3 separate regions of the Homo sapiens genome follow, and regions 1 and 3 are each linked to region 2. Evidence: fine-mapped QTL for protein levels in blood plasma. A gene starts in region 2. Each other region holds a variant in brackets. All regions are shown on one strand. Distances are from middle to middle.

Region 1 (8,636 bases), 12 kb before region 2:
CACCCACAGGCCTTCTTCTCTGGCTGCCTCAGAACACTGGGCCCGGGCCTGGGGTGCTCAGCCTGGAGAGTCCTGGCATCCATCTTCAGCCTGTTAAACACAGCCTAAGGGCTACTTCTTCATCTCTAGGCACTCTTACTGTCTCTGTTTGTACCCCCTGTTATAGCCCATGTCATTCTCTGTCTGTCCTACAGTTATGGGTCTGTCTTTCCTGCTAGATCAGAAGCTCCAGGGACCTGTCTGTCTTATTAACCTTTCTTCCCCTCATGATGCCTGGCCCAGGACTCCACGTTCAGAGGCAGTTTAATGTCTACAGAACTGATGGATGCTCCATACCCTGTATTCATAAGCCTGTGTTTTGCTGCCAAACACCAGAGGGCACTGTTAGCATGTCGATGAAGATTATAAACCCTCAGACCTGGAAGGCTGGGAAAGGCTTATGAAAATCTTGCTTCTGTTTTGGGATTACATAAGACTTATTGCGCCTCAATTGTTCTAAACACATCTGTTCGAGTTTATTCATGAGGCACGTTCCTGTTGGGGTTAGAGATGAGTTTGAAAGCTCCCCGTCACAGGTCAAATCCTTAGACAAGACTGCCTTCATAGTCTCTCCAGACCCAAAGTGGCTCTCCTAACCCACCAAAAATATCTCCCAATTACTCATTGAGAGGCATCCAGATGCCCTCTCCTCCACCAAAAATGGCGACTGCCAGTCCCAAGGGGGAATGTGTGATATGGTTCTATTCCTTTTCTGCCCCACCCTCCTCCCACATGCACACATGCACAGGTACCTGTCCACACGAATGCACACTCACTGCCATCAGGACCTCTGGGTGGTGGCTCAAACGGTGGCTCAAAGGCTCTAGCCTCTATGGGCAGGGTGGGAGGATGCTATGAGAAGCAGCACCTCCACTGGCCCTGACCCCAGGGAGACAGCATCAGTTTCCCATGTGCTCCCAGTCACAGCATCATGGGGGCCCCCAGGTGTGAGAAGTCTCCCTAGTGACTAAGCCAGGGAGCTCCATTCCAAAGGAGCTGGCTATTTGCAAAGGTGTCATGGCTTGTACATTTTTCCAAAAAATGACAGAAAAACTGAAGAACTGATTTTTTTCCCAAAACAAAAAACCCTTGCCCTCACTTCTCCCTAGCAAACCTGCTCTAACCCTGGGATCCCTGAGCAACATGACAGCATGAGGTCCAGATGGAAGGGGTAAGCCCCAGGAGCCCCTTCCCCTTGTCTTTGGTGTAAACTGGCTTCTTGACCCTGCCCTGCACACACCCCTAATAAACAGGAAGGCATCCGCGCCATTAGTATCCATCCTTTTCAGAGCATCTGAGACCTGTCTGGACCATCAAAGCCATCCCCAGCCCCCAGGAGCCTACTGGAGGAGACACCAGCCTCGCCAAAACAATTCTCCATTGTGTTCTTCCCCTTAGAAATCATGGGTTTGTAAACAGGCCCTTACATTTCAGCAGGTCCTGCCCTGGCTTTGTGCTGGTGTGTTGTTTTTTCTTCCCTGAACAATGTCCTTTCCAGTAGGGCCAGCCGTTCACACCATTGTCTGAGACCCTTGGACTACAGGAAACATCACCAGATTCTTATCAGTTGGGGGCAGGAGTGGGGGGGTGAACAGATGAGATCATGTCCACAGAGCAAGTGGCTGGTGTGCCACGTCATTCCCCATGCCTTCATCTGTGAGAGCAGAGCCCGCTCGCCCTCCATCAATCTGGGCTTCATGTGTCCAGAGTCCAGTCCCCTCTATTTGGTGGTAGACACCTGGACTCTGTTCCAGGCCTCTGTTGAGTCACTTTGGAATCCTATCAGTCTGCAACTGTCCCTTTGCCCTGGTCATTCCTCACAGCAGTGAAACAGGCCCTTTTGGGTGGATTAGGGGGTACTCTGGTCATCATACTCTCCGGGGTAAAGAGGTCAAGACTGGTCAGCTGAGTCCTCCCATCAGCAGTGTCCCTGCGTGCAGGCTATTAGCTAGCTGCTGGAGGCCTGGCCCAAAGACAGCCCCATATCCCTTACACCGCCTCCCTGGAGACTTTGCAGCAGCCCTCATCCTCAGTGGAGAGTAATTTTTTTAAAGGCTTCATGAGGAACCAGGAGTTTCCTTAATGGAAGTCCAGCAAGGAAAGTGAAAGGCTTCATTAGGATGCAGTCTCTAAGGGAGAGGGGCCCAGTAGTGGTACCCCCAGCAAAGGTGGCCAGGGACTGGGCAGTGGGAACGGGCACAGGGCCACAGCTGCCTTGCCTCGTCTCCTGTACATCCGAGGGATGGCTGAGTACGGAAGGAGAGCCAGGGTGCGGCCCAACAATTCCCAGGCACCTTATCAGATTTTTATCTATTTATTTATTTATTGAGACAGAGTCTTGCTCTGTTGCCCAGGTTGGAGTACAGTGGCGTGATCTCAGCTCGCTGTAACCTCTACCTCCCGGGTTCAAATGATTCTCGTGCCTCAGTCTCCTGAGTAGCTGGGATTACAGGTGTGTGCCACCAGCTAATTTTTGTATTTTTAGTAGAGAAGGGGTTTCACCATGTTGGCCAGGCTGGTCTCGAACTCCTGACCTCAGGTGATCCACCTGCCTCGGCCTCTGAAAGTGATGGCATTGCAGGTGTGAGCCATCGTGCCTGGCAACCTTATCAGATATTGTGTCCAAACCTAGCCCTACCCACTGTCCCTCTTTCCGAGTTTAGAGTCTTAGAAGACCCTGGGAATTTGTTCCTGGTGTGTGTTGAACTTTATTCTTGTAGAACCCACTGCAATCCAAGACTTAGGTGAGGCTGGGATGGGACCTTAACTGGGATGGAAATTGGGCTATTTCTGAGCAACTACCCCCTAGCTCTAAGATGTGGTTGGCCAGAGGTGCCTCTGTTTGCTGGATTTCCAGAGGCATGTGAGCCAGTCTTCTGGGGCCCAACTGGCTGGAGCTGCAGCTGGACCCCCTGCCAGCCCACAAAGAGGACAGGCTGGCTGGAGGTACACCAGGTTCTTGGGGGCTGCTACCTGACCATTCCTCCAAGCAGGGGATTCTAGGGCTGTCTAGGACCTGACCCCAAGCTTAGCCAATGAAAGAAAAGCCCAGGAGTCATTTGAGAAAGTGGAAACTGCTGTTTTCCTCTCTTATTCTGACTCCTTCCTGCCCCTCACCTTCTTAGAAACGAGTCTGTTGGATGGAAGGACAGCCACAGACTAGGGGTGAATGCTAGCCCTCCACAGAGGACCATGACAGACACAGGAGGGGCCAGAAATAGGCTGGTTATGGGAGCACGAGAGCCGGGAACAGAGCACAGTCCAGGCCCAAAGGGCAGCAGATTGGCCGCTTGGCAGCCCTGTCCCGGGGTAGCAGAGTCTACTCTGGCGAGGGTCATAGGAAACCAAGATATGGCTATTCATCAGGAGGCTGGGGCTTCCAGAGCCTACAAGCTGGGAAGGCAATTACTAATTAATCAAGCTCACATGTTAAGGGAGGGAATTAACCTAATCAACATTTTTCCAAAGTGTGTTCTTCAAAATGTTAGAAACATGAGATGTTAGCTGCTCCATGGGAAAAAAAAAAAGAGAGAACCAAATGTTTTGGAAAAGCACATAGCACATAGTAGGCATGCACATTAGCAAGAGATCATCACAGGACTTCTCAGGGCCTTCACAGGGCAAGCCAGCAGGCAGCATTTCAGCTCTGTCAGGGCCAAAGGGGCAGAACACGGGGACCACGAGATCATGGAGGGTCCCGTGGGATTATAGTTATCTCTTGGAACCACTGGGCCAGTCTCATTCTCTAGGCCCCTTTCCAGCTCTAAACCTGTTTGGGAAGTCATGGAACAGAGTCCCAAAGAGCAGAGGAAGCATTAGACGCAGAGGAAAGAGCTGTGACAAGACAACAGAGAGAGGCTGAAATCGCTGAGGCAGGAAATAGGGCTTGAGATGGGAGGGGGAGGTGGTGTGGACCAGGAAGGGGTCTGGTCCAGAGGGGTCTTCCGGACCACCCTTGGGAGAGTGATGCAAGAGGGAAGAAGGGGGCTCTGGAGGCCGCCTTCGCACACCCTTCCCAGCCCAGCACACTGTGCCAGGTGGGTGCCCTGGTGACACTTCTCAGTCAGAGGTGATGATGCTTCCTGGGGTGGGGTGACAGGGTTTCAGGTTCTGTCAGGCCTAAGTGATCGTGGAGGGGGCAAGGAACAAAAGGAAAGGCCAGCTCCAGGGCCCAGACTGCAAGATGAGACTTATGACTGACCTGTTAAGACCCCTAGTCTACAGCATGGATCGAGGGGCCTGTTCAGGCAAGAGGCCCAGGGAAGTCTCCCTGGGAAGGTGGGGTTATGACCCTTCCATCTTCCTCTAGCATCAGTGGATTCTGCTCTTTGGGCTGAGGTGTTGATGTCAGTGGGGAGTGGGAGCCATGCCCAGACGGACCTCCTGCAGTGTGCCCAATAGGTCAGATGTTCGGGGCCTCCCCTCCTTTCCAGAAGCCACAGTCCCCACAGCACAGCCCCAGTCCCCCAGCCATGAGGACTTAATATCCATTGGTATGTGGCTTGGGATGAAGGCAGGAACCATGCCAAGTGTCACTGTGACAAATGTCAAGTGTTGTTGTGAAAAAGGAGCAGAGCTGCCTACGGGCCCAGCTGCCCTTTGCCAGTGTTTTTTTTTTTTCTTTTAGTTCAAGATCCTCCTGAAGTCCCAAGAAGGTCAGTCTTACAAGCCCACAGGCCAGGATGTTCCTCATTTAATGAGCAATCTCGGCTTTGTACAAAGCCCTCTAACTCCTTCCTTCCCCTGATACCCATCTTCCTCCTTTCTAGAAAGCACCACCCAGTCTCTTTCTTTAAGTCCTTTTCCAGCTCTAAAACCTGTTTGGGAAATCATGAAACAGAAGTCACTCAGGGTGACCTTCTTTCTCATGGAATGGATGGGAGGGCTCTTCATTTTCAGCTCATGTGCGCAGCATCAGTCCATTTAGTACAATACACAGATACACAGTAATGATATAATTATGTGATGCAAATATTAACTTCATCCCTTTCCTTGTAAATTCAGCTTTTCTCACCAGAGCTCAGGGGCAGTCATGACAATAAAAATAACAATAGTAATTACAAGAAATGTGCTCTGAGT[A/G]CAGAGAAACCACAAGGCCCATCTCAACACACAAATACAAAAACAACTCGCATTTACGGGGCGTTTCCAGGAGTTAATAGCATACAGTACCATGGGTAGGGTGTGGTTGGCAGAAGCTGTCCACTTTTTCTAAGTGCAGGTGTTCGTTGCTGAGGATCTTGTGCTCCTCCTCCCTTCGTTTTCTAGAGTAACTTCCCAGAGGACCCTGCCTGGAGCCTGCCAAGCCAGAGTCCAGCGTAAAGGCCCGGAGGGCTGTTTGTGTCTTTCTGGCCTCCCTAGGGTAGAGGGCAGAGCTGGCTGCAGCTCTGATACCCTTTCCTGGAGCTCTGCACTCTCTCCTCCCCTCTTTAATCCCCTCTGTCTCCCCTCCCTTCTGCTCTTCAGCCCCCATCCTTTCCTCCTCTCCTCCTCTGCCTTGACCAGCTGACCTCCCAGCAGACAGCACCGCAGGCTGGAAGGCTTCTCAGGGCGTTGATAGGTTAATCTCAGTGCTTCTGGTTCATTTATTACATGGTCAAAGGGGAGAACGGAGGGACTATTTCAGGTCCCAGTTCTCTGGAGGTGCCAGGGGTAAGGGAAAGATAAAACCCAAGGCAGTCTGGGTTTGAGTTTCAATAGGGCAGGGAACCCTGGCTTGCTTTTTATCTTTTTTTCCCCTCCTTTCTTTGTCTTGGTTGTTTTAATGGAGGGAATCTCAAACCCAGTGCTCTTATCTCCTTCCAGCCAGTTTTGTGTGTCATGAATGTGTTCATGTGCAGGCTGGGAACAACTTTTCATTTAGTCCTCCTCCTCCCCTCTGTGCTCCCCAGCCTGAGAAACTGGTGATGGCAAAAACACCTCCCCTACATGCCCAGGCAGAACGCGTCCTTGCCATCCGAGCCTTACCCCCGAGAATCAGCGGGACTTACACTTCTTCGTCCTTTTCTCTACCTTGTTTCCCCCTTAAAAGAAAAACAGTCTTCCTAAATCCATTTAGCATAAAACAGAGATTCCAGAGATGGAAACACTGGGTCTTCCAGGTGGCTTCTGAGCTAACTGATGCCATCCTGAGTTCTTGTGGACACCTGTTCCTGCCTGGGTCCCACAATCTATCCTAAGGGTCTCCTGCCCTCTATCCATCTCCATATCCTCTCAATCTTCTGCATCCCTGGCCCTGATTCTGAGGGCTGCAGGGCTCACAGAGCCTCCACATTCCCAGCCTCCAGGGCTGCGGCATGCTTGCATCACCCTGGGAAAGACAGCCCACTCTTCCCGCCTGCACCCTTCCCCAGCTCCCCCACCCTATCTCTAGTCCACAGACACAAGGGACAACAATGCCCCAGAACCCACCCCTCCCCGCTCGTGGACATGGAGAGCCTGACAATGGGGAGGGGGTCCTCTCAGGAGGGGCAGGCATCCCAGCAACCCTGGCCTGGGGAAGGGAAGTCAGGCTGTGAGATGCCCCCACCTGGTTTACAAAGTGAAGCCTGAGCCCTGACCACCCCAGATCCCTGGGGGCTCTAGCAGTCTATGCCTCTAGATTATCTACACCTCTCCGTGATTCTCAGATGGAGAAGAGGCGGTGGGCAGTGGCAGGGAGCCACCAAGATATCACGGCGCGACAGGAGGGGAGGTGCATTGTTGCTCCACCTTCCCAACACCTCTGTGTTCCCTCCCCAAGTCGGTCAGGTAGGCTCTTCTTACGGGGTGCTAGCTTAGAGGCCATTTCCACCCTCTGGCTCCCTGCAGGCCCCCTACCGGGATACCCCCTAGACGCACCCACACACCCACTCTGAGGGTCACTCAGAATGGCCATTGTTCTGTAGGCTGGGAAAGAACCACCCAACCCTCTTGCCTCTGGGCACACCCGGAAATGTGTTGCGGAAGCCAGGCCATCTCTGAGAACAAATGGCAGATCCCTTGGGGCTGCCAGCAGCCAGAGGGTGCTGGCTCCAGCTGGGTCTAAGAGCACAGAGAAGGGCAGGGAACAGGCTTCAAGAACCCAGCCCCTCCATTAGACCCCAGTAGCGGTGTGGGGGCAGAGACACCTGTCTCTAAGAGGCAAACAGACATCCTGACCCCTCTGCCCTAGCTGGGTGGGTGGGAGATGCTGGGGGCTGCTAGTGGGCCCCCCAGCCCATCCTGACCACCCCTCCTCTGCCCCCTTCTACGTGGCCTCCACCTCCCGGGGCGTCCGATTGTGCTCGGCATGCACCCGGCTCTTCATCTTCTTGCCTAGCTCCAGCCCTGCCCAGCTCTTGCCCCTGGCCTGCTTGCCCCGGCTCCGGCTCCGGAAGCAGCCTGAGCATTCCGTGGTGCCCCTGCACCACACGCGCTCACAGTACTCATCCACCCGGGGCAGGTTGGCGAAGCCAATGAGCTGCAGGATGTCCTTGTACCAGGCCTTGGGTGGGGTGGAAGCCAGGCCTCCCCGGGCTGGGGGCTCCTCTGGCTTTGGCTCCGGAGGGAACAGGTTGTCCAGCTGTGAGGCCACAATCACCACCAGAGCCAGGCGGACCACAGTCTGGGAGAAGCCATGCTCCAGAGTGGTGCAGGTGTAGGTGCCCGCATCGAAACGGCTAAGCCTGCGGAACAGCAGCCCCCGCTCCGTGTGCAAGACTCGCTCGTCCGTCTTCACCTGCCATGCGGGCGGGAGGGCGTGAGTAGGGTGCAAGGTGGGAGTTTACCATCGGCTTCTCTGCCCCAGCTTTTCTGCCATCCTTGGGGCCCAGTGCCTGGGCACTTCTTGCCCTATTCTCCCCTTCCCAGGAGGGGACCAGCAGCGTGGCAGTCTGGGCCTCCTCTAGACCACCAGCTAATTCAGGTGGGGCCTCACCTTCCCATAGCCCAGGAAGGGGCCTTCTCAAGGATTTGACTGGCTGGTTTCTCCCTTAGTCAGAGGACTCCAATCTTGGCCTCAGAGGGCCCTGGCACACATTCCCAAGGAACATAGGGGCTAAGATGTTATCCCCTTAGCCCTTCTGGAGGTACCATCCCATCTACAGGCTTTTCTCAAGGGAGGGGCTGTGCCCCCTGGCCCAGAACTGGGCTTCAGAAACTCCCTATGCTACACACATACAATGTGCGTGTGCCCACGCACACATGCACGTGCACGCACACACACACAGAGACACACACAGGGCCTTCCCATCCTGGTCTGAACCGTTCATTCCCCCAACGGTGCGAGCTGACAGCCCCAGCCCAGGGTGGGCTGATCGCCCATCACAGCGTGGGAAGTGGGAGTGCCGCCCTGATCCCAGCCCGCCTCTGGCCTGGACCCTGTGTGGGTTTTAGTCTGCACATCTGTGTGTTGGGGGTGGATTGCTTGAGCCATTAGCTAGTGTTGTGAAACACCATCTTGTTGCTCCCCTCCTCCCCTGGGGAATCTTCTCAGTGCCCAGCCCAACAGCTGGCCCAAGGCTGGCCTCCCCCAGTTCCCAGGCTGGAGGGAGAGCCCCTCCTGTAATCAATCCACTCCTGCCCCTCCCCTTCCCTGCCCCGGCCAATGCCCATCCTCAGGCCCCAGACTTAAACCATCC
Region 2 (5,067 bases):
CTTCAAAAGCCCTCAAGATCTGCTCCAAATGCCCCTGGTAGAGGTACCTGGGGCGTGGTCACGGATTGTCCTGGGGGTCAGGGCAGGGTGTCAGGTCGGGGGACCATCCCTCCCGACAGCACTCACCAAAGGATCTCTTCCCTTTCGAACACACTCCTCCCTCTGTCCTGGCTGCGGTGGCCACAGGACCTGGAACACAGCCCCGCTGACCTCAGGTCCTCCCCTGATCTCACAGGCTCAGTTTCCCCATCTGGCCTCCCATCTGGAGGTGCCCAGTTCTCAAACAGACCCTCTTCCCTGCCAGTCCAGCTCACCTCCCGGGGATCTGGCCATGCCTGGTCCAGCCGCAGAGAGTAGAGGGCGTCCAGGCCACCCAGAAAGAGGCGGTCTCGGTACTCATCTAGGTACATGGCCTGGAGGTTCAGGGAGCCCTGGGGGCCCAGAAAGATGGCAGAGCGGTTGGCAGACAGGAGGTCTAGGAGGATGTATGGGGAGGCAGATCAGGGCCACAGCTCAGCCTAGTTCCCCAGCCAAGGAGTGGAGGTGGAGGCCCCGGCTGAGCATCCACCCCTGACACACTCACATCTGGAAAATGTTTCCATCCACATGGTGCTGGAAGGCTTTCGGACCATGGCTCCTGGGGACAGGTGGGACGGGAGGCTCAGAGCCTCCCACCTGGCCCAGCCTACCCTGGGGCCTACCTCCCACCCCTCCATTCCTTAGCCCTTCATCATGCAGCTAACATCTTCCCACTGTCCCATCTGTGCCCTACCCAGTCCCCAGGGAAGAAGGCCCCAACCAGCAGAAACTAGAGCAAAGTGCTGGAAGATCCTGGAGGAAGGGCGGGAGTCTTTGCAGGCCGCCTGGCTCAGCTGGAGGGTGGGCCAGCAGGCGAAACTGTTCCCAGCAGAGGGGACCCCTGGCAATGGCCTGGGTGCAGAAAAGGGAAGGTATGGCCGGGAAGGGCTCCCACCTCCAGTCCAGGGATGCGGCCAAAGACAATTTTCTCCCCACAGATGCTGGCTATCCCACCCCAGAGATGAGAGCGGGGAGCTGTCTGGGGACATCGGTCCCAGGAGTTGAGGATCCTGAGGTAGGTCCTCCGGGCTTGGCTAGGGAGGTGGAGGTAATGGGGGCAGTAGGATGTGGCAGGAAGAGGGTGCTGGCCACCTTTGGGAAGGCCCAGAGTGTCCTATGCCTTCCCTACGGAAGCACCTCTACCCAACACCCATTCCACCCCCAAAACTCATCAACGGTCTCTTCCGGGAAGCCCTCCATGGATGACAGTACCTTGGGGAACTTTCCCTATTTGGGGCTTTTTCTAGCAGTCTGACCTCCCCGCAAAACCACAGCTCCCGGAACAAGACCACATTCCCCTCAGCCTCTCCAGGGACGAGCGCCATCTCCCCCAGCAGACTGGGCTTCCCAGGGGAAGGTGGTCACCCCTCTGGTTTCCTCAGGAAGGATCTGCCAAGAGCCTGTCTCGGGCCTTCCCTGGGCCCATCCGTGGAGGCCTGAGCCGGCTCACATGTCTAGGGTAGAACACAGGAACCCCCAGGCTGGGATGTGCAAAAAGGGGAGGTGAAACTCCCCCTGGGCTGGGGCGCTTCTTGGGTGCAGGAGCACATGAACAAGCCCACTCTGGGAAGTGGGCTGCAAGGGGGGTCCTCCCCTTCTCTGTGGCCCCAGGACCAAGGGATAGCATGCTGCCTGCTCTCCCGTTGGCCACCCTGGGCAAAAAGTGCCAGTTGAGCCCAGACAGACCCTTCAGCCCCACCCTCTCTGTCACTCTCCCCTGCCTGGTCCCTTCCTCTGTCTCCTCCCCATCTTTATTGAGCTCTCTCAGGGTCTCCATCTGTCCCTTTCTCAGCACTCCCCCTCAGGTGCCTCCCACCGCCACCCTGGTCCTGTCTCCCAGGACCTGCCTCCCTCCCACTCCCCGAGAGCTGTGCAGGGAGAGGCTCCCTCCCCTACAGCTGACCAGGCACCCAAGAGCCCAAGCCACCCAAACAGGGCACACGCACACAAACAGGGCACACGCACCCAAACAGGGCACACGCACACAAACATGGCACACGCACACAAACTCGGCACACGCACCCAAACAGGGCACACGCACACAAACTCGGCACACGCACACAAACACTGCACACGCACCCAAACAGGGCACACGCACACAAACACGGCACATGCACCCAAACAGGGCACACGCACACAAACAGGGCACACGCACACAAACACGGCACACGCAAACTCGGCACACGCACACAAACTCGGCACACGCACACAAACACGGCACACGCAAACTCGGCACACGCACACAAACTCGGCACACGCACACAAACACTGCACATGCACACAAACACGGCACACGCACCCAAACAGGGCACATGCACACAAACACGGCACATGCACCCAAACAGAGCGCACACACACAAACAGGGCACATGCACACAAACAGGGCACGCAGGGGCTGGTACCTCGGTAGGAGAGCCGCAGGCGGGGCACACTGGGGCCGGGGCTGGGGCCAGAGCTACCCCCATGGAGCAGGAGGCCCCCTAGCAGCCAGCAAATGGCCCAGGCCGAGGGGGCCATGCTGGGGAACTGAGGGCACCGCTGCCGCCTGCCTGCAGAGCCGCCCTCTGGTCCCGCTGGCCGCCGGTTGTAGTTTGCTCTGCTGCCACCAGGCCACCACTTATAAGGCAGTGGCTCCACCCAGTCCTGGGCGGGAAGAGGGGCGGAGGAGAGAAGGAGGCTGGGGCCTTGCCGTCCACCTGCCGCTTCTCCTTCCACCTTGTTGGCCCAGTGCAGGCTTTTGTGCCACACTGGCCAGCTCCCCATTGGGAAGACCTTCCCAGCTAGGGCACAGGCCATGTGTACAGAGATGTCCACAAATGCAGGTCCCCAGGCTCCAGCAAAGTGACAAGTGGGGAGAGAGCCTGGAAGGGAGGTCAGGGATCAGAGGTTAAAGTTGATGGGCTGGGTAGGGGCCTAGCTGGGCTCTGCCTTGTTCTCTGCCCCTCCACTGCCCACAGCAGAGACCTTCCAAACTGGCCCTGCCCCAATTCCAGGATATTCCAGCCCCCTGAAGCTTTGGCCAGACTCTCCAGCTCCCCTGGGTAAGGGTGGAGGGCCATTCCCAGCCCAAGGGGCGCCATGTCCTAGACAGGTGTTTGAGGTCCGGCAACACTTCATAGAGCCAGCAAGAGATGACTGCCCAGCCTCTTCCACCCAGGCCTGTCCCCATCTGGCTTCCAGGCACCCCAGCCTCTCCCCACATCTACATGCCCCATCTCAGCTCACCAGGCTTGCTTTGGGGTAGGGGACAGGGGCATCAGGGGACTCCATGCCGAGGGAACCTCCCCTTGCCCTGCCTCCCTCAGGCCTCCAGTCCTTCCAGAGACTCAGGGTCCAGAGCTTCCCCAGGTCAGTGATGGTTCTTCCCAGGGACCCCATGCCCCATAGGCCCTACAGACACCTATGATCTCTTAGAGGTCACTTCCCCCACCCTGAATACTGACTGGGTGGCGGGGGGCACAGAAAGCCACAGAAGAGGGCCAAAGGGGAAATGGGACTGAGGGCCTGAATCTGGGGTGAGTGACGGGACCTCCCCATGCTCCCTGCCCCAGAACAGTCGCCACCTCACCCCACCCCAGAACCCTACACTCAGAACCTGAGGCCCTGGGCACTAAAGAGATTTTAATTTTGAGCTGGAGTTTGAGTTCCCAGGATTCTAACAGCTCCTGCAGGTTGGGCCTCCCACATGGACCGGCCTGGGCCCTCTGATGGTGGTCAGGGAACTTGCGGGGCACTCAGAGAGGGAAGGACCTGGCCCAGGCCACAGAGCAGGCTGAGAATGGGTCCAGCTCAGCTCTGCCCCTTCCTGGGACCCTCCTTTGCTTCTGGGCGTTGTTGGGAGTATGGGGACCCCACCCTCCTCCCCTACCTCAATCCTGAAATGGAAACAGGTTGGCTTCTTGGGTCAGCATGACAGGTCTCAGAGACCTACAACTCTGCCTCCCTGTCCCCAGCTCCCTTCACTCACACATGCCTTCTTCAGCAGGGGGCTGGCCTGGAGGTGGGCAAGGGGCTGCCCACAGAGGCCAGTGATGGAGCTCAGCCCAGCCCTGCCTCTGGCCCTGCTGGAGAGCCTTGGCCAAGGCCCTTCCATCTCTGGGTCTGCCTCTTCCTCCCAGGGCCAGGGACCAGCCACCCTGGGTGTAAGCAGCCTTCATAACCTGATGAGTGGGCTTGCGCAGGGGCTGCTGTCAGGGTGACCATATCCTGGGACCTTGGAGTGGACTGCTTCTGTCTCTGTTTCCCTGGGGAGGTGTGGCCAGCACACTGCCCAAGCTGGGGCCAACTTCTAACTGGAGACTGAGCTAGGCAGCCCTTCAGCCAGCATGTGACCACCAGCGGCGGGCAGGAGGCCCAACACTCCTCAGCCTGCCAGCCCATCCTGGGGTCTCAGCTCAGCCAGACACCCAGCAGGGGCTGCAGGGAAGCCTGGGTCGACTGGGGAAGGGTGTGGGGGCAGCCTACTCCACACTGCGGAAAGAGCCTGTGGCAGGCTGGGAGTCCGAACTCTACTGTTAATGTGTGTGGCCTCAGTCAGGTCCTCTCCTTCTCTGGGCTTCAGTTTTCCAGGCCTGGGGGCAGAGGGTAGGGATCGTCTCTAAAGGCCCCCCTGCTTGCCAGCTGCAGGTGGGAAAGACCACAAGGGTGCTCCGAATTCGAGGATCAATGGGCCCAGACACGGGCATCGTGTGTCATCTAGTGGACAAAGAAGGAACTGCAGGAGGCCCCCAAACTCGCTGTGTCAGGCCCTGTGTTGGGGTAGCAGGGCCACCCAGCAGAAACAGCAGCCTCTTGAGGACGCTAGCAGTAACCAGGCAAACACAATATAAAGAAGCAGGAGCAGTGGAAGATGCTCCAGTGATTGCTCTTGATGGAGGAAATCAAGGGAGGCTTCATGGAGGAAGCACTATCCAAGCAAAAGCCCAGAAATGGAAAGGATGCAGCAAAACAGGCAAAACTAGGTGATGCATGAAGGATACAAAATGCCAT
Region 3 (8,636 bases), 170 kb before region 2:
GCCCTGTAGTATTGTATCAGTACTAAATTTCCTAATTTGGATAACTGTGCTCTGGTTACATAAGAATGTCTTTGTGCTTAGAAAATCCACGTTGAGCCGGGCGCAGTGGCTCATGCCTGGAATCCCAGCACTTTGGGAGGCTGAGGCGGGTAGATCACGAGATCAGGAGTTCAAGACCAGCCTGACCAACATGGTGAAACCCTGCCTCTACTAAAGATACAAAAATTAGCCAGGCATGGTGGCATGCACCTGTAATCCCAGCTACTCAGGAGGCTGAGGCAGGAGAATCGCTTGAACCCAGGAGCCGGAGGTTGCAGTGAGCCAAGATCACGCCACTGCACTCCAGCCTGGGCGACTGAGCGAGACTCCATCTCAAAAAAGAAAGAAAATCCATGTTGAAGTGTTTAGGGATAAAGGGGCTTGATACCTCCAACTCTAAAGGTGGGGGGAGGCACACAGTACATATAAATATTTACCTACAGTCATGAAGCAAATGCAGAAAATGTAACCAGTTATTGAATCATATGGGAGTTCTTTGAAACACTGTAACTTTGTTAGTTTCTAATTATGTAAAAATGCTACGAGTAAATAAACTGCCTTATGTCACAAAACTAGCATTTTACTTTTAACAAGACAGGATTTGGCCAGGCACAGCAGCTCATGCCTATAATCCTAGCACTTTGGAAGGCCAAGGCGGGTGGATCACTTGAGGTCAGGAGTTCAAGACCAGTCTGGTCAACATGGTGAAACCCCATCTCTACTAAAAATACAAAAGTTAGGGTATGGTGGCAGGCGCCTGTAATCCCAGCTATTTGTGAGGGTGAGGCAGGAGAATCGCTTGAACCCGGGAGGCAGAGGTTGCAGTGAGCCAAGATCGCGCCACTACACTCCAGCCTGGGCGACGGAGAGAGACTCCGTCCCCCACCCGAAAAAAAAAAACAAAAAAAAGAAAGACAGGACTTCATGTCAAGGTCATCCTTCCCAAATCAAAATTACGCCAAATTTGGGGACAAACTGCAAAGAAATGCTATAACAACCTTCATTTCCTTTAAATGAGGATATACATCTCCACCCTCAGGTTCTGGGAAGAGGTTCTAATCTGTGCATAAGCACTATACATTTCATGCAAGCCAGCTTCAAATTACTCCTCCAGGACCCCACAATGCTGACCCTACTACCACACCTTTAAATGTTACTTCGTCTTCTAAACTGATTCAAGTGACCAGACCAGGACAGAAATCCATCTACTCAATGAGTAACACTGACTCAAATAACTATTTGTCCAGCTAACAATTCCCTCTTCCTTAAGACCACCACTGCAGACCACTCTGCCACAAACTGCAGGCAGATCCAGAGCCGGTTACATAATACTTTCTCACAGCCCCAGTGGGGAAAAAAACTGGGGGGATACCATTATAGCTCAGTCCAAACTAGCATTACTTCAGATAATCAAATTCACAAATGAAGAGATATGTTCCAAAAGAAGGACACCAGTCTAAAAAAAAAAAAAGGAAAAAGGAACAGCTGGAGAAGGTGGAGAAAAACCCAAGATCTCAAATAATAATAATAATAATAATAATAATAATAATAATATCTGTTACTAGGTGACAAAATCAAGTCTGAAAAAACCAGGGTCCACCGAATTAAACCAAACATCAGCAAGCCTTCTTGGGGAAGGTGGCTAAGGGTAAAACGAATTTAATCTAAACTAGTTTTTGGCTCCAAGGAGCTGCAAGTCCACAGGCGTGCGGTGAGGAGGGCTGACAAGGACCCCCAGGGAAAAAGGCAAAGTGCTGTGCTTAGATTTTGCGAAAAGATGCAGGTATGGTGGGTCTCCAGATGACTTGTGGCAACATAAAAGTTTCATGATCAGAATTGGAATTCAAAGTGGACCAAAAAGTGTAATAGAAAAAAAAAAGTATGAAAGGAAACCTGAAATTGTTCTACGATGCTTGCTTTGTTTTAACGGAAGCTCACATTCAGGTCAGGATGGGACGACCAAGTTCGTTTGTGTGTGGCAAAAAGGAAGTTTTAGATGTTGCTGAAAAGTTCACTTATGAACGTGGGCACCAAGTCTGAATGAGTAAGAGAAAGGCTAGGAGCAGGAAGAAAAAGCAAGGGGGCTCAAAGGGGCACAACAAATAAATCCTGACAGCTAAGAAGTGCAACCCACGCGGTCTGACGGCAGAAAGGCCGCGGGAAGCTGAGGGGCAGGGGATGGGCGGAGTGCCAGGGCGGAATCGAGGTCACAGTGGAGAGAGCACAAGAGAGAGCTGACGCTGCCGAAGGAGGCAGAAAAGCAGCCCCTGCAGTCCTGCGTCGAGGCCGGAGCAGACCAGCACCTTTGACAGCCTGAGGAGCTGAAAACGCTACCTGGTGGGCCCAGGGTGGGCGGACCGGGCGTTTAAAGGTCAAGGTCAAGGTGGGGTTTGGCAAGTGATGCATAGCGCTCAAAGGAGACCGAAGACATACAAATAATATTATAAAATTATGACTATCGTTATCTTTTTTTTTTAAGAAGAAAAAAATAAAAGGTCTCCTGGACGGCTGCGGGGTGGAGGCGGCCCTGGCAGGAACGCGTGCAAAATAGGCTGGGGGCTGAAGTCGGGACGGAGGGCAGGCCGAGGGACCTGTGCTGGGCCACCGGAGGGAGGCACTGAGACTCGGGCCCAGGGCCTCCGCCGCACTCACTTGCCCTCCTGGCAGTCATAGAGCACGATGGAGTCGTCGTCGCTACTCGAGATGACCGTCTCGCCGTTGGGGCTGAAATCGAAGCAGTTAATCTTGTCCGAGTTTTCGCGGAACACCTTAGCGACGCGGAAGCTCCGCAACACGCTGTCGGTCAGCTTCATGGCGGCGGCTGGGGAAGGCAGCGGCGGCGCAGGGCCGGGGCGGGGCCCGGCGGCGAGCGGGCGGGCTGCCGAGGGGCCAACCCAGGCGGGGCGGGCGCCGCGCCGGCGGCTAGCGGGAAGTCGGCCAACAGTTGGGCCGCCTCCTCCTCTTCTTCCTGCTTGGTCGAGGGTCTTCTGCCTGGACTGTGGAGCCTCGCCGACCGTTCGTCCTCACAGCCACCTCACGGACAACCGGCGCGTCGCCGGCTCATTGTGTCCGCCATTTTGGGGCGACAGGCAGAAGCTGAGGGCGAGGAGCCTCAGCCGCGGCGCACGCCGGGAAAGGGGGCGGGGCGGGAACGGCGGAGCAAGGCGGGGAGGCGGGGTGGTGACGTCAGCGCGGCCGCGGCGGAGTGTAGTGGCGGGGCGGGCTGCTGGCAGGGAGCGGCCGAGACGTGCAGGGCCTTCCCGGGGGATCGGAAGGTTGCGGATGCCTTGGGAGCCGGGGGCCCTTGCGCGGGATTGCAACCCCCGCGAAGACTCTGGCGCCTCCTGCAGGCGTCCCGATCGCAGGCTGCGTGGGAGGGGGTACTGCAGGGTCGGGTATGCTGCTGGAGGCCGGTTTTGGGGGTGACTCAGGTGAGCCGCTCGCAGGCAAGCTTGACCGCTAGTCCACCGCAGCGTCCGCTTAGACAGCTTCGACCTCTTTACTTTTTTTTTTTTTTTTGGAGATGGAGTCTCTCGCTCAGGCGCGCGCCACCACGCCCAGCTAATTTTGTATTTTTGGTAGAGACGGGGGTTCACCATGTTGGCCAGGCTGGTCTCGAACTCCTGACCTCACCCGCACCCGGCCTCGTTTTCTTAATCGAGGTAGACTTTAGGTACAGTAAAAATCAGCCTTTTTAGGCCGGGCGCGGTGGCTCACGCCTTTAAACCCACCACTTTGGGAGGCCGAGGCGGGATGATCGCTTGAGCTCAGGAGTTGAGACCAGCCTGGCCAACATGACAAAACCCCACCTCTACTAAAATACAAAAAATTAGCCGGGCATGATGGCGCGGCTGAGGCACGAGAATT[G/C]AGAAAGGCGGAGGCTGCAGTGCGCCGAAATCGTGCCACTGCATTCCAGGCTGGGCGACAGAGCAGACGGTTTCCCCCCAAAAATTAGCCTTTTTAGTGGCTAGTTTTATGTTCTGACACCCATACACAGTCATGCAGTCACCACCACATTCAAGATTTGGAAGAGTTGCACTATCCTGTTTGTAGTCAACAGGATTATTTTAAAGGTTCTATCATATAAGTGATTATTTGCCTTAAAAGAAAGTTTATCTCTAACAAAGGAAAGCAGTATTTGAACAGAAAATAGGAACCAAGCTTCCTAACCTTAACTTTCTGGGCAAGGGGTTAAACTCAATGCCAACCTATGTGGCTTCACAGATCTGTATCTTGTGTGAAGCTCCTCAAAAGGTTAATTGCCTGGGGTTTCCAACAATGAAGATGGGGATTATTTATTTTTGCTTTCTTTAGCTAAAGAGAAACAAAAACGAGGAAAGGCTGTGAGACATTTCAGTCGCTATTAGGAAGGTTATTATCCAGAGACCTGTGCAATGGTAAAAAACAAAATGGAAACCCTGGGACAGTTGGGGTCTTTCTAGAAAGAACTAGAGGCTGTATCCCAACCCCCTGGGTAAAAGGAGAGCCAGGATCCTTATACATAAAGAGAAGTTGTTCTCTAAGGGAAGAGGCAAGTTCCTGGCTAAGTCTGGGGTATAATTGCCTCCTGACAAAGAGCAGAGCTTCTGGCTACAATTTGTTCTGGGGTCTGGAAAAAGCCGGTTTGAGTGAAACCTGAATAGATGGCAACTTTCCAAACTGCACACAATGGAAGAAAAACCCTCCACGTCCCAGATCACTTGCTCTGCTTCCCTGTAATTCCTGTGCCTTTATTTCAGAAGCTAGAAAGTCTGATACAGCGTCTGCTTCGAATAGTTTAGAAGGCAACAAGGACAGATCGAGTACCATGTTCTAGAACTGTCGGGAAGTGAACACACCCAGTAAGATGATGCCATATTTTGGTCCATGTTAATCTACAAAAATAACCACAGAAACAGCTGTAATCTACTGAATGTTGCCAGCCAAAATAAATCTTTGCAGGGTATTTTTCAAGTATTGTACTTCCTATACCTTTTCCAGATTTCACCGTTAAGACCAAACCTTCCTCCCAAGACTTGACTTTCTGCATTATTTTTGGAATGCAGTCTTTTTTTTTTTCCCCCATTTTTAAGAGGGTCTTCAAATCCTCATCCTGTTTCGCATTCTTACTGTTTCCAATTCCTAGCCTGGCTCCCTGCCCTATTATAGTGGGGCTCTCCTGGCTTCCAGCCCAACAGTATGGTTGCCTTAAAGGATGGACTTTAGGCCAGGTGCGGTGGCACTTTGGGAGGCCGAGGTGGGTAGATCACAAGGTCGGGAGTTCAAAACCAGCCTGGCCAAAATGGTGAAACCCTGTCTCTATTAAAAATACAAAAATTAGCTGGGCACAGTGGCGGGCACCTGTAATCCCAGCTACTTGGGAGGCTGAGGCAGGAGAATCGCTTGAATCCGGGAGGCAGAGGTTGTAGTGAGCCGAGATCACACCACTGCACTGGGCATTAGAGCAAGACTCCGTCTCAAAAAAAAAAAAAAAATGGACTTTAAAAAGTGACACAGAAAGCCGGCTCCAGTGGATGGGTGGATGGAGAGAAAGCTGCAGTCAAGAGTGAATCAGATGGGCTTTAAAAGAGCATCAGACTTAATTTTTTATGTTTCCTTTTATTTGTAGTCATTCTTTTACTTGTCACATATTCATTGCAAAAAAACTAAAAAATACAAATAATAAAAACAGCATCCAGAGATAGCCACTGTTACAATCTTTTATTATAGTGAAATATATATAACACGAAATTTACCATTTTGATGTAGAACCTTTCCGATTTTTTCATATACATATATATATATATATATATTTTTTTTTTTTTTTTTTTTTTTTTTTTCCTGCTCTGTCACCCAGACTGGAGTGCAGTGGCGTGCTCTCAGCTCACTGTAACCTCCATGTCCTGGGTTCAAGTGATTCTCCTGCCTCAGCCTCCTATAGATGCCCGCCACCACGCCCAGCTAATTTTGTATTTTTAGTACAGACGAGGTTTTATCATGTTGGCCTGGCTGGTCTTGAACTGCTGACCTCAGGTGATCTGCCTGCCTCACCATCCCAAAGTGCTGGGATTACAGGCATGAGCCACCACACCCAGCCAATCCCTGAAATATATTTTTATTGGGTTCATAATATATTGTTTGTAAGTTTACCCATACTATGAACATATTCCAGGTCAATAAATATCGATACAATCATTTTGAATGGCTACAAACTATTCTATTATATGGCTGTAAAGTAATTTTGCTTCCCATTTTGTCCAGAGCCCAGCCAGAGCTCAGTATGGATTAATTGAATAAATGAATTTATCCAAAGGATTCCAGATACTTGATTGGCCCACTTATTAAATTTTTCTATTTCATGCTGCACAATTGGAATGGAAACTGTCCTAAACAATGTGTCCTCTTTCCAAAACACAGAGCTCCTTATGAATTCTAATTCTTTGAGATAAATTTCTGAGCTCCAGTGCCCAGCAGCAGGGCTTCCCTAGAGATTGACTAACGTCTTACTCAACCCTTGGAATAACTAGAATCAGGTGACTCTCTTCTTTGGGACAGTTGCATGTGTGTAAGTGTGACAGTGTGTGTGTGTATCAGTGCTTACACAGCCCTCGGAATAACTAGAATCAGGTGACTCTCTTCTTTGGGACAGTTGAGTGTGTGTGTGTGTGAGCTTAATTGCCAAAGAGGAAACGCAGAACACTAGAACACAAAATGCCTGGTGAGGTGTCTGAGCCCCAGCACCAGGAAGTGGTCGCCTCACAGGTTGGCAAAAAATTTACTGACAACAGTATAGGTTTGAAAAAGGAAAATTTCTTAGAAAGAAAGAACGCTGCAGAAGAGTGCAGCGGGGCACCCCAGCGAGAGGACTGAGGGCCTTGGTGGATTTTCCTTAGGTGCATTTATGGACCTTCAGGCAGGAGCTTAGGGTTGTAAAATTAGTTTCAGCATGACATTCCAGAGATGCCTAGAAATTTTAGTTACTTATAAAAGTTGAAAGAGGCCTGGAACCAGATGCCCACTTTAGATACTAGGGAAGTTTAATTACTTCTAATTTCCCCAGATAAGGAGTTTTGCCTCTGGATGGCCTGTTGGATGGTTACCAGGTGGTCTTTGCTCCCTTCTAAATTCCTCAGATAAGGGCCAGGCACAGTGGCTCATGCCTGTAATCCCAGCACTCTGGGAGGCCAAGGTGGGTGAATCACTTGAGGTCAGGAGTTCAAGACCAGCTTGGGCAGCATGGTGAAACTGCGACTCCACCAAAAAATACAAAAATTAGCCAAGCATGGTGGTGTGCGCCTGTAGTCCCAGCTACTCGGGAGGCTGAGGCAGGAGAATTGCTTGAACCCGGGAGGCGGAGGTTGCAGAGCCGAGATCGCACTCCAGCCTGGGCGATAGAGTGAAACTCTGTCTCAAAAAAAAAAGAAAGAAAAAAAATAAATATTACAAGGATGAAGTAAGCCATTTTTATTTAGACAGAATTTAAGTGTGTGCATGGAAAATCTTGTGGGATATACATGAATATGACCAGAAATAATAAATAAATTTAGTTACTAATGTATGTCCACTTCTACTGGAATTCCTCAGAGAGGTCTTGAGACTCCAGGACCGGGGGCCTGGATAAAAAGAAAGTATCTTTCCCTGGCAGCAGGACTAACTACCCAATTTGTAGGGCCCCTTGTTAAAAAATTGCTAAGAATCTCAAGATGACAACAACAGAATATTAAATGAAGTGCAGGGTCCTTCTGACTATACAAGTCACACACCCATGAAGCTGGCTCAACCCAGGACTAGTACAGCAACAACACTGAGCCTTTCTACATGCACTGGAAACATACTGTGATGAAGACTCTGAAGTTCTGAGAGGTTAACTTTCTCAGGGTCACTTAACCAATAAGCACTGAAGTCTGGATTCACACTCTGCTTCAGCACTGGAAAGCTTGTGTTCTGTTTCCAGGGCAAAGGACAAGAAATCATTCACATTTAACAAAGACCACTGTCGGTAAATAATACCTTCTTAGTCTGGAAGGAAAGGATGGAATCTTCCCAGATAAGCCTTGACTGCTCAGAGCCAGAAGGAACTGCCTAGAGTCTCAGGGCCAAGGCCACTGTCTCTAAAACTACAGCACTGTTTCCTAAGGCTTAAAAACTCCCAAACAATCCAACATACACAGCTTTAGTGGCCTCTCATCAGTGCTTGCCTAGAGTCATGCTGAACTGCTTCCTAGTGTTTTGTTTTACTCTCCCCAACTCCTCCTTCCAAGAAAAATAGCTTTAAGATGTTTTATTTTTTTTAATTTTTTTTTTTTTTTTTTTGAGACAGAGTCTCACTCTGTCACCCAGGCTGGAGTGCAGTGGTGTGATCTCAGCTCACTGCAACCTCTACCTCCTGGGTTCAAGCAATTCTCCCACCTCAGCCTTCCGAGTAGCTGGAATTATAGGTGCGTGACACCACATCCGGCTAATTTGTTGTTGTTGTTGTTGTTGTTGTTGTTGTTGTATTTTTAGTAGAAACGGGGTTTTGCCATGTTGGCCAGGCTGGTCTCAAACTCCTGACCTCAAGTGATCCGCTCACCTCGGCCTCCCAGTTTTAAGGTGTTGTACAGCCCTTACATAGGACA

What was found. PIP is the posterior inclusion probability: the model's chance that the variant is causal. Protein levels are from the aptamer-based SomaScan assay of Sun 2018.
Region 1: its variant is fine-mapped to the plasma level of the SEMA3G protein (Sun 2018, PIP 0.95).
Region 3: its variant is fine-mapped to the plasma level of the SEMA3G protein (Sun 2018, PIP 0.95).

What each region holds. Positions count from the first base shown.
Region 1 is chr3:52,428,339-52,436,974 of GRCh38, forward strand. It overlaps SEMA3G (semaphorin 3G), which reads right to left. Exons shown (of 16, transcript NM_020163.3): 16 at 4,697-7,735. The coding sequence ends at 7,265. Among named protein-coding and RNA genes, the nearest start is that of SEMA3G, 12 kb to the right of the region's middle. RefSeq lists enhancers at 1-2,777, 356-455 and a silencer at 1,635-1,795. The variant A/G (reference allele first, on the strand shown) is at 5,119.
Region 2 is chr3:52,442,433-52,447,499 of GRCh38, forward strand. SEMA3G (semaphorin 3G) reads right to left here and starts at 2,671. Exons shown (of 16, transcript NM_020163.3): 1 at 2,481-2,671; 2 at 315-475; 3 at 127-189. The coding sequence starts at 2,595. RefSeq lists enhancers at 1,768-2,644, 2,645-3,521.
Region 3 is chr3:52,275,510-52,284,145 of GRCh38, forward strand. WDR82 (WD repeat domain 82) reads right to left here and starts at 3,140. Exons shown (of 9, transcript NM_025222.4): 1 at 2,692-3,140. The coding sequence starts at 2,852. LOC107986086 (a long non-coding RNA gene) reads right to left here. Exons shown (of 3, transcript XR_001740699.2): 3 at 6,809-7,422. RefSeq lists enhancers at 1,867-2,499, 2,003-2,052, 2,073-2,152, 2,563-2,662, 3,132-3,763 and silencers at 2,853-2,932, 3,113-3,402. The variant G/C (reference allele first, on the strand shown) is at 3,907.